Regions from separate parts of the Homo sapiens genome. Here region 1 is linked to region 2. The links come from fine-mapping of genetic effects on gene expression. A gene starts in region 2. The other region holds a variant in brackets. All regions are shown on one strand. Distances are from middle to middle.

Region 1 (5,376 bases), 70 kb before region 2:
AGGTAAATGGAAGAGTAGCAGCTTTAAAATCGAAGTATTTCCAAGCTTCTGACAGGGTCCAAGCTCTAAAGTGTCTGAATTCAAATATTTTATACTGTACTCTTCCACTCTGAAATACAAACTTCTTTAATTCAGTGTTACTTGCTAAGGTGAAGATGTCATGTCCATTTCATCACCTTCAAAAGCCTTAATGTGACACAATGTCTTGTCAATAAAAATGTTATGCAAAATTTTATTTGCAAGGCTAAAATTTTAGAGAAAAGATATTACACATATCAAATTTAACAGGGTTTTCAATAAGTAGGAAGAAAAAAGGATTTGGTGGCATCTGGGCCAATCCTAGTAATATTGACCAGGCCAAGTGTGTCCTTGGGAATCCCTGGTTCTTTGACTTTTCTCTACTCTCTAATCCCCGTGAAAATGACTAACCAGAAAAAATCACTTCCATATGGTTTGATATAAACTTATACCAGTTGGATTATTATTTTTCCCTGGGACATCTATATTTTCACGAAATGAAAGTCTCTGCACCCTTTCTAAAGAAATGCCCAGGTGACCATGTACTAGTGGCACAAAGAGCTGAGAGAATAAAAGGCAAGTTGCGTGCATGTTGGAGCGACGTCATGTCAAGACCACCTGTTCTGCCGGAGTCTAAGCAGGGTCCGTGCTGAGTTCTTCATTTCCTTCACTTCAACACTTAAAGAAAAGTTCAGTGCTACAGTTTTATTCTTGTGTGATCTTTAAAAATACTGCACTCAGAGATGTTTAAATAAATGTGATCTAAGTTCATCTCTCTAACACCCAATAGGTGTGAGCCTGCTGAATTCCACCTTGTAGCTCTCTATCCCTTTGCTTGGAAAATTCTGGTTCTTATCTCTTTTCTCACAAGTGTACTATGTGGATTTTTTACACTATTTCATGGCAGTCTGTTCCTCACACATTGATGATGTACCCACTCCCTGGGCCAGGAATTGTGCAAGGAGCTGTGGATTGCAAAAACTAGTATGACATGATTTTGACCTCCAGGGAAGTGACATGCCCTTAAAGGACAATGGGACAGAGTCTTCTAAAAGAGAGGCCGGCTGGACACGATGGCTCATGCCTGTAATCTCAGTACTTTGGAGGCTGAGGCAGGTGGATCATCTGAGGTCAGGAGTTCGAGACCAGCCTGGTCAACATGGTGAAAACTCATCTCTACTAAAAATACAAAAAAATTAGCCAAGCATGGTGGCGCACACCTGTAATCCCAGCTACTCAGGGGGCTGAGGCAGGAGAATTGCTTGAACCCAGGAGGCAGAGGTTACAGTGAGCCGAGATCATGCCACTGCACCCCAGTCTGGGCGACAGAGTGAGATTCCATCTCAAAAAATAAAAATAAAAATAAAAATAAAATAAAATAAATAAAAGAGAGGCCAACAATATCCTATGGCCAGATGGAGGGGAAAAAAGCCCCCTTTCTGAATTTATGAAAACCGAACCTCAGAAACCATTTTTGGCTAAAGAGCTGGGTTTTGTTCTCAATTCCTACTGAGGATCATGTCTTGGATGCAGAAAGGAGAAGGAGCACACTGCTGGTACATGTGAACAGAGTCCCCGTTGAGGTTCCGTGAAGCTTATTTAATAAATAGTTATATGACGCCAGGGCTCTGCAAGGTAGGGCACTTAGGGATAAAAAAGCAAACAACCGAGATACAGGATTAAGGATAAATCAGCTGAATACAAGAATGACAGCAAATTACATGATGGAGCATAAACCAAATAGGAGCCAGAAACAGTTGTTATTTTAAAAGTCAGGAAGAATCATGATCCCCATTCCTAAGAGGCTTACATCCTCATGGGGAGATAAATCAAACAAAAGTGGAGCCCTAAAAACATAAAACCATAATTATTACTATATGTGGGCTGGAAAGGTGGGCCTGGATCAGAGCAAAAAAGCATCAAGTCGTTTAATCCTAGAAATTTGCCTGGAAGGGGAGAGCCATTAGCTAATTTTTTTTTTTTTTTTTTTGATGTTGTAGCTTAGAAAGAAGAGGTAGGGGGAAGTTCTCCTCCCTGCCTAAAGGGTAGCCTGGGCAAAAATTTCTTTAACAGAAAAGGTAAACAAAATAAAAATGGGAATCATGAGGCCAGCTAACTAAAGAGCAGAGAGATAAAAAGAGAGGAGGGGGCCGGGCACGGTGGCTCACGCCTGTAATCCCAGCACTCTGGGAGGCCGAGGCGGGCGGATCACCTGAGGTCAGGAGTTCGAGACCAGCCTG[A/G]CCAACATGGTGAAACCCCATCTCTACTAAAATACAAAAAATTAGCCAGGCGTGGTGGTGGACGCTTGTAATCCCAGCTACTCAGGAGGCTGAGGCAGGAGAATCGCTTGAACCCGGGAAGCGGAGGTCACAGTGTGTTGAGATTGCACCGTTGCACCTAGCCTGGACAACAAAAGCAAAACTCCATCTCAAACAAACAAACAAAAGAGTAGGGGAAGTAGCAAAAACATCCAGTGATGGAGGGGGAACTTACCTACTCTCCTCTATTTGCATACTATCTCATTTAATCCTCCAACTACCCACTAGGGTGCACTCACCCACCACCCACCCCCAACCAATGACAGCTGCTGGGCATGGGCTGCCACTGGGGTGCCAAACAGACAAGGTACCTGCTTTCCAAGGGCTTACAGTGGAGTAAATTACATTTTGTCCTTCTGCCAGTTCTCTAGCTCAGAGAGGTACAATCCTCCAACTTGCCAGAGGTCCTCCCTGCACTAGAACCCTCAAGGAGCAGAATCAGGGCAGGAGCCAGACAGGTTTGTCTGACCTCCAAATCTCAGAGCTTTCTGTTACCCTTGCAGGATAGGCAAAAATGAGCAAAAACTAAAGAGAATCCCAAAGATGGCAAAGATTTCCACTGGATATTTTCTTTTGCCATTTCCATTTACTATCCTGAAGCACACTTCACACTCAGAACTTCAAATGTGCCTTTTTTTTTTTTTTTTTTTTTTAAAGAGACGGAGTCTCATTCTGTCACCCAGGCTAGAGTGCAGCGGCACGACCTCAGCTCACTGCAACCTCCGCCTCCCAGGTTCAAGCGATTCTCCTCCCACAGTCTCCTGAGTAGCTGGGACAACAGGCACCTGCCACCGCGCCCGGCTAATTTTTGTATTTTTGGTAGAGACAGGGTTTCGCCATGTTGGCCAGGCTGGTCTTGAACTCCTGACCTCAAGTGATCCACCTGCCTTGGCCTCCCAATAAGGGTATTGTGAGAAATTGGCAGGGAGGGGAAAGGAATGAATTATAATCATTTCCTCTTCTCCACCCTCTTCTACTCTTGAGGGAAAGAAGAGCAAAATGTAACTGTTGGAAGAGGCAATGGTACAAATACTCCAACAAGCACAGTGCTGTGAATGTCCTCTGAACCAAAAATGTTTCCCTTTCTTAGAGCAGCTCGATACAGCAGTGTCAACAATGTTACCAAACAGATATTCATTTACTTGGTCCAACCTCGAAGCATCCTCACAAAGGACCCAATTGCTCTTCAGAAGGATGTTGAAGCTAGAGAGAAGGAAGACCAGTGGCCCAGTACCAGAGGCTCCAAGCCTGAGACCTGGCATCGTGCTTGACCTTGAAAATGTCATTGAATTCTTGAGTCTCATTAAAGGGGGACTTCACAATTGACCTCACAGGGTTGTGGTAGAGATTAAATAACAAATACAAGCACCTTGCAGCAAAGTGGCTGGTCCCCCAGAAATATGCAAATGTTAGTTGATGCCAAATAGAATATTTCAGTTTGAATTAACCAAAGAGAATGTTTCAGTCCACAGCAGGAGGTTTCAGAGCATTGGTACCCCGAGGGAGAAATGAAGCTGAGATGACGCAGAAGAGTAGAGGAACAGTGCCTACCTGGAAGATAGCAGGTGTGCCCCTACCTGAGACAAATTTGCCAGCTTTGCCTAGAGCGAGAGTTCTCAAAGTGCAGACTCCAAACCAGAGGCATCAGCATCCCTTGGGAACTTAGGGACGTGGATGAAACTGGAAACCATCATTCTCAGCAAACTATCGAAAGGACAAAAAACCATACACCGCATGTTCTCACTCATAGGTGGGAATTGAACAATGAGAACACATGGACACAGGAAGGGGAACATCACACTTCGGGGACTGTTGTGGGATGGGGGGAGGGGGGAGGGATAGCATTAGGAGATATACCTAATGCTAAATGACGAGTTAATGGGTGCAGCACACCAGCATGACACATGTATACATATGTAACTAACCTGCACATTGTGCACATGTACCCTAAAACTTTTAAAAAAAGAAAAAAAAAATGCCCATTTTCAGGCCCCACCTCAGACCCACCTAATCAGAAACTCTGGGGCCAGAGCCCAGCAATCTGCGTTTTAACAAGCTTTCCAGGGGATTCAGATGCACACTCAAGTTTAAGAACTTGAGTAAAAATTAAGTGAGTAAAAGTCAGCAGTAGAGAAAACTTAACTCTATGGGCCTATCATTCCACAAAGAAAATTCATACCAGGATATGGCACAACCCAACATTTCCACGGTTAGAAAGTGGGGCCGGGGGATTAGAATTTCACAGCTTAGCATAGGGGGTACAACTGACAGCACCTTACTGGCCCTGTGTCTGTCTTGTGACCAAGCTGTGGCACCTGTTATTTTGGGCAGTTTTCTCGGTGCACAAAGCCAGGTCATACGCTCAGTGAACATTGCTGAACACCATGAAGGTGACATTTAAAGCAAAAAGGCCCTCACAGAGGTAATCTTCCTTGGAAAATATCAGTAGTCAGGTTGGCAATCATGTAAATTTCCGTTTCCCCTACCTATCCCAGGAAATTATTATTATTATTTTTTTTTTTGAGACGGAGTCTCGCTCTGTCGCCCAGGCTGGAGTGCAGTGTCAGCAAATATTTTTTAAATTTCTGAAATCAATCACATTGCACTGCTGCTGCAGGACACTGCAGAGAGGAGATGCTGCCCATGCACCACCCACAGGCTGCAGGGGCCTCCTCCTGCCCAGGCCCATCACCGAGGCCCTTCGGGAGATTCAGTAGCCTCTATGTGTTGGTGGTTTTAGGGATGGAAAGCATAGATAATCAGATATTGCTCTTAGATTTTCCAAAACAGACAGCTAATGTCACACACAAAAGTCAATGCAAAAAATCTTCCTTTCAAAGCAATTTTCTCTCCATGCCTGAATTTAACTGCATATTCTTTGCCAACTTAAAAAAAAAACCAGCTTTACCATCTTCTAAGATTATATTTCTCAATTTCAAAAAATATAAACTGGAAGCATTCATGGGACTTCCCTGTACATTTTTCTTTGCAACCTATGACTGTAATTATTTCAAAATAAAATACATATATTTTATATATA
Region 2 (5,376 bases):
AATTGGAAAATTGTGAGGAAAGGCATGTTTTCCTTTTAGATGTTAATGCTATACCAAAAAAAAAAAAATCCCCCTGCTCCACTGTGTCACCTCCTTCAAGGTCATTTGTCGTCAGCACAGCAACCTACGGATGTTTTATTAAAAGAAAAATCCCAGCCTGGGACTGCCAGATCTCTACCCAGGACCCACTTATCAAAGGTGCTGCTCTAGCTGACAGGCAGCTGCTGAGTGGCACAGAGTTGACATTACTTGATATGTGCAGAACCTCATCAGCCAGCACGTTCCCTCGGTCCCCATTAAGCATTCTGATAACACCACCTCCATGAGCTCGGCTTAACAGTTAAGCCCGCAGGAAGCCCTTGAGTGCATGAAGCCTACCAAAATGTCCCAGCTAGTTTTAACCCCACAGAGTTTGATACGAATTGATTGAAAAATTATACAGCAACCGTATTTGTCCACCTGAATAAAATAGTCCTTAGTTTTGAGAAAAATCTAATGTGGTGTTAATTACTTAAAAAAAAAAAAACCCTTATAGTCTATTTTCTATGAAAAAGACAACTGTATTACTAGCAGGTTTATACACCGTGACCAAGGTATTAGTGAAGAGGCTCTTCCAAGCCCGGTCTTGGGCCAACAGTACTTCAAAAAGCATATGCAATGGTGCATAACCTGCAGCTATTAGACTGGATTACTATTAGGTTGTCATCTGATGTGGACCCTGGGTTTTTATCCTTCCCAAAGCTTTCTCCCAGTCCGTTTAATGCACAAAAGAGAAAGAGACAGTCGTTTACAACGTTCCTTTGCAAATTCGCTGTTTTCATATGTTTAGTACCCAAATACATCAAGACTATTTTCACACCTAAAAGTTAATATTCCAAAATTCCACCGTATCTACGATTTTCTGTGATTATAGGTAACTGTAACCGGGAAGTGGTTTTGTTTGTTTGTTTGTTTTGTTTTGTTTTGTTTTTGTACTGCTGAGGAAAGAAGTACCAGCAGAAGCTGCAGTTCTAGGTTGGGGAAGTCTGGGGAATCCTGCAAGGGAACATCCTTCGGGAAGGAGGACAGAAGTGGAGAAGGAACGACTGAAAGGATGCTAACTAGGTTATTATTAGCAGGAAGTTAGGGCATTTTCTTTTCTGGAGAGGCTCTCCAGTCCCAGCTTGGAGGTGTGCAATGCCTCAGCCTGGGAAGTATCTGCAGTGTTCGAACAAATGAGAGAAAGGAAGGAGCAGTGCCAAGAGGTACTTAAGGAGAAAGAATTGTATTAGTGTGGAGCCAACCTTTCCCGGGCAGCCACCCTGCCCTTACACTTACACACACACACTTTGCTTCACTTGGCATGCAATAAGCCAGCATTTAGAGAACGACACGTTCACGATGTTCTCCCCACCACCACCCGCGCGCGCGCACACACGCAAACACACGCTCGCTTCCCATGCCTTCCACGCTTTGCAAGCGGTCACAGCACCACCACGGATGGCACCAGCCCCGGGAACCGCGGGGACCACGGAGGCGACTCCTCCTCCGCTTTCGCAGCACCTTGACTTGGGGGAAACCTCCGCGCAGCGTCCTGCACCATCACCCCCGCCCCCGGTCAGCTGCGCCGCACGCTACACGGAGTAAGCGAACCAACGTCTTCGCTCCGTGACAACGCGCGGGTCCAGCCCGAAAGCCCAAGAAACCTCCCGGCGGCGGTATTCCCAGAAACAGCCCGAGTTCCCGCCGCTCCCCGCGCCCCCACGGGCCACCCTGCTCTGCACCCTGCCCCCGGCCGCCCGGGAGGTCCCAGCCGTGCCACCAGGCAGGCCGGACCGGCCGTCCCCTCCTCTCCCGGTTCCCGCAGCTCCGACGCTCCTGTCCCCGGTGCCCCGGGTCCGAGCCCGGGCGCCTGCCGCCGGCTAGCCGCGCTCCATCCTCTAGCTTTCCACACGCGCGCACAGACACGCGCCCTTGCCTTCCCTCGCCCCAACACGCACACCTGCACACACTTGGTGATGCCCGCTCCTCCCGCATCCTCAGGGGGCACCCCCTCGCCCCGCCCGCGAGTCCCCGCTGCCCGCTGTCACTCTGCCCGGACCCCGCTAGTGGATGCCCTGACGCCCCCTTCCCCTGACAGCACACGCGACGCACGGCGCTTACAGTTCGCAGGAACTGGATCTCGTCTTCGCCCTCGCCCCCATCGGCCATGGTTCCGCGCCTCCTCGCCGGGGCCGGCTCCCGAGCCCCGCGGAGCTCGGCGGCGGCGGCGGCCCCTGGCGCTGCCTTCTGCTTCTGCTGCCGGGAGCCGGGGGCTGGAGGGGGCCGCGCTGCCGGGTGCCGAGCGCCGGGCGGTCCCCGCCTGCAGAGCGGAGGAGGAGGCGCGGACGCTCGGGCGCGGGTGGTCGAGGCGCGGGGCCTCCCTGCTCCGCACTGTGCGGGAGGAGGGCGGCCCGGGCCCGGAGGACGCGGGGAAGCAGCCCCGCAGCCCAGCCGCGCTCGCTGCCTGCAGCCGGCGGTCCGCTCGGCCCCGGCTCCTCCGAGCAAGTGCGCGGAGCCAGCTGAGCCGGGGTTAGTGCAGCGGTGGGGGTGGGGTGTGGGGGCGGGCGGGGAGGAGCTCGGCGGCTCCCCGCTGCTGCAGGTAATCCGCAGCCCGCTCCTCCGGGCCGCCAAACCCGAGGCCCAGCGCCACTTACTGGCTGCGCTGGGAATCGGGGCCGGAGCGCACCCGGCGAGCGCACAGCCTCCTACCTGCGCCCCGCTGGGGTCCCTGGGCTCATTCCCCTGCCCCTTCCGAGCTTAAAACCGCCGGCACGACGCCCCTTCCTCCTGGACTGGGCTAGGGCACTAACTTCCACGGCACTTCGGATCGCACGGAAGAATGATATCTTTCACCTGGGCGCACGGGGTGGCTAATCTCCAAGTAGAGATTACGCAACACCTGGTATTTTAAACGTGGATTACCTCTATTCATGATCAAATGGGAATTCTTCAAGATCTAGTTTTAGTGTACCATGCTTTTCGCAGATAATCGATGCAAAGTGCACGGTTTTGGTGCACAGAACTTTAACATTCAACAAATATACAGTGAGCGCCTATGCCAGACAATGTGGTACAAGACAGACCCAGAAGTGTGTAGTCTGTATTCGAAGTGCAAGCCTTAATTCAACAAGGAATTGCGGTAAAGTATGGGATACTATCTATAAGTCTGAACCACTGGATGGGTCTAAAGTCAGACTGTGCTACCCATTATCCTTGCTGAGAGAAGAAATTCGAGCATTCCACCGCAGATAGTAATATCTTGCTCTCGCAATCCTCCATGCAATAGTCTACCAAATGCCTACTTAACAAACGGCTATGACTAAGAAAATACAGGGTCTGAGACAATTTGGACAAGAAAGCAATTTGTCTCTTGTTCCTAGTCCACAGCGCTTTCATTTATCGTACTTAAAATAAGTATGTGCAAAGTAAAGTTTTCAAATGTCAGTACTACGGAGATGCAGACATTGTAAAACAAGGATTTTTGCGTCCGTTTACCTACATCTTACATTCTGCGGCATCTAACTCATTATTAAAATCGACCACTGAGTTCTATACAGTTTATATTTTATTTTTAGCATTCATTAACTTTGTACTTACTGGGGTAGGTTTGTAAATTTCCAGGAGAATGACAATATGTGTATAAATACTCGCTGTCCGTGGTAGAACTAGTAATGTTCTGCCCTATCTCATGGAAGTATACCAGTCACCTTACCTAAAAACTTGACCTATCCCTGTAGCCATGACGACTAACCAACTCTTAAACCGTTATTATTTATGTGAATGTTTACTCTTACGAGTCTCTAAAGGAACAACCAGTGAGCTCCCAAAAAGTCGGGTAAGAGTCCTCCATGAGCAATGACTATATTCTGAAATTGGCTCCTGATTTAATGTTAAATGATTTGATCTTCCAAATTTAGAACGTATCAAATTGACGTTTTAAACTATTTTATTCAGAACTATGCAGAGACAGGTTTCTTAATTACTCCATTCTACCCAGATGGTAGGTAAAATAATATAAAAACGCTTACCACGTCTTCATTTTGGCATTTTAACTAGGCTGTAAACTGTTCTAGCAAGAGTTATGGTTATTATTTCTTTAGTTCTCTCAATGTAAGTGGAATAATGCTAAAAGGCCTAGACACTCGATGTTTCTTATTCACCCCATACAGTCTTCAACAGCAAGTAGACATAGAGCAGAGACTATTTATAAAACACACCGTGTATGTGGACTTTAAAACACAAAAATACAAAACTATGAGGTTTATAGATCTCTAGTCTGTTCTAAAAGTATAAAAATATGTTTGAGAATGATATACAACATTTATTTTTAAAAAGAAAACCAAAGCAAATATAACAAGTGTTTTAATACTGGTGATGGGCATATTGGTGGAATATTATTTTTGGTACTCTGATATTCTGTTATATTTCATAATTACATAACAAAATAATTTTTACAAGAAAGCAACTTCAGTGAAAGCTATGGAAACTTTTTACTTATAGCTTTTTTAAAAAAAATTTAACCCTTTTGGATAATTTAGTTATAATTCCCTAGTTTCTTCTTCTGGTGGACAATTGTAGTAAGAATTCCAGTGCAGAGATCATAGGATACTAACTAACCTCAATTTTAAGTGTACTTGAGAAAAAATACATAAAATTTGGATACAGCTTAAAGTTTATGTTTACTGTATTTAATTCTTATTGTAGACTCAGACTAAAAGAAATTAACAAGTAGACCTTTTTCTAGGCACAAAACTATAGTTCATTAAATAGAAAAAAATTATTTACAATTTTCATTAGAAAATAGTATTTGATATCTATATATTTTGTAATTTTTATTAAAATATTTATTGGCTGGGCATAATGGCTCACACTTGTTATCCCAGTGCTTTGAGAGGCCAAAACAGGAGGATTGCTTGAAGCCAGGAGTTCAAAACGAGCCTGGGCAATGGAGACCTCATCTCTACCAAAAAAAAAAAAAATTTTAATTAGCTAGGCATGGTGGCACAAACCTGTAGTTCTAGCTACTGGGAGGTTGAGGTAGGAGGATTGCTTGAGCCCAGGAGTTTGAGGCTGCAGTGAGCTATGATCAAGCCACTACCCTAGTAACAGAGCAAGACCTGATCTCAAAAAAAAAAAAAAATTCTCTTTTTCTAAATTCGTGTTATGTATAATAGCTTATTTTGCTTTTTATTATCTTAATATTGCTTTATTATAATATAATCTTTATATTCAATAGATACTACATTTTAAATCTTTATTAATCATAAAATTATTAATAAAAAGTTTAGAGGATGACATTTCTATGTTTCTTAGTCCAAATTTGGGAAGTATTCTTCTTTATGACTAATTTTATAT

Which allele goes with the higher level. Positions count from the first base shown, and alleles are read on the strand shown. Sizes are in standard deviations (SD) of each study's normalised expression.
For the expression in esophagus mucosa of the gene that starts at base 2,528 in region 2, G is the high allele of the variant in region 1 and A is the other (small effect, 0.21 SD a copy in GTEx).

The links. PIP is the estimated chance that this variant, and not a neighbour inherited with it, causes the effect.
Region 1: its variant is the best candidate, but not a certain one, in a credible set for the expression of RYR2 in esophagus mucosa (GTEx, PIP 0.88).

What each region holds. Positions count from the first base shown.
Region 1 is chr1:237,109,204-237,114,579 of GRCh38, reverse strand. All of the region lies in intron 1 of RYR2 (ryanodine receptor 2), which reads right to left. Among named protein-coding and RNA genes, the nearest start is that of RYR2, 70 kb to the right of the region's middle. The variant A/G (reference allele first, on the strand shown) is at 2,259.
Region 2 is chr1:237,039,336-237,044,711 of GRCh38, reverse strand. It overlaps RYR2 (ryanodine receptor 2), which reads right to left and starts at 2,528. Exons shown (of 105, transcript NM_001035.3): 1 at 2,143-2,528. The coding sequence starts at 2,190.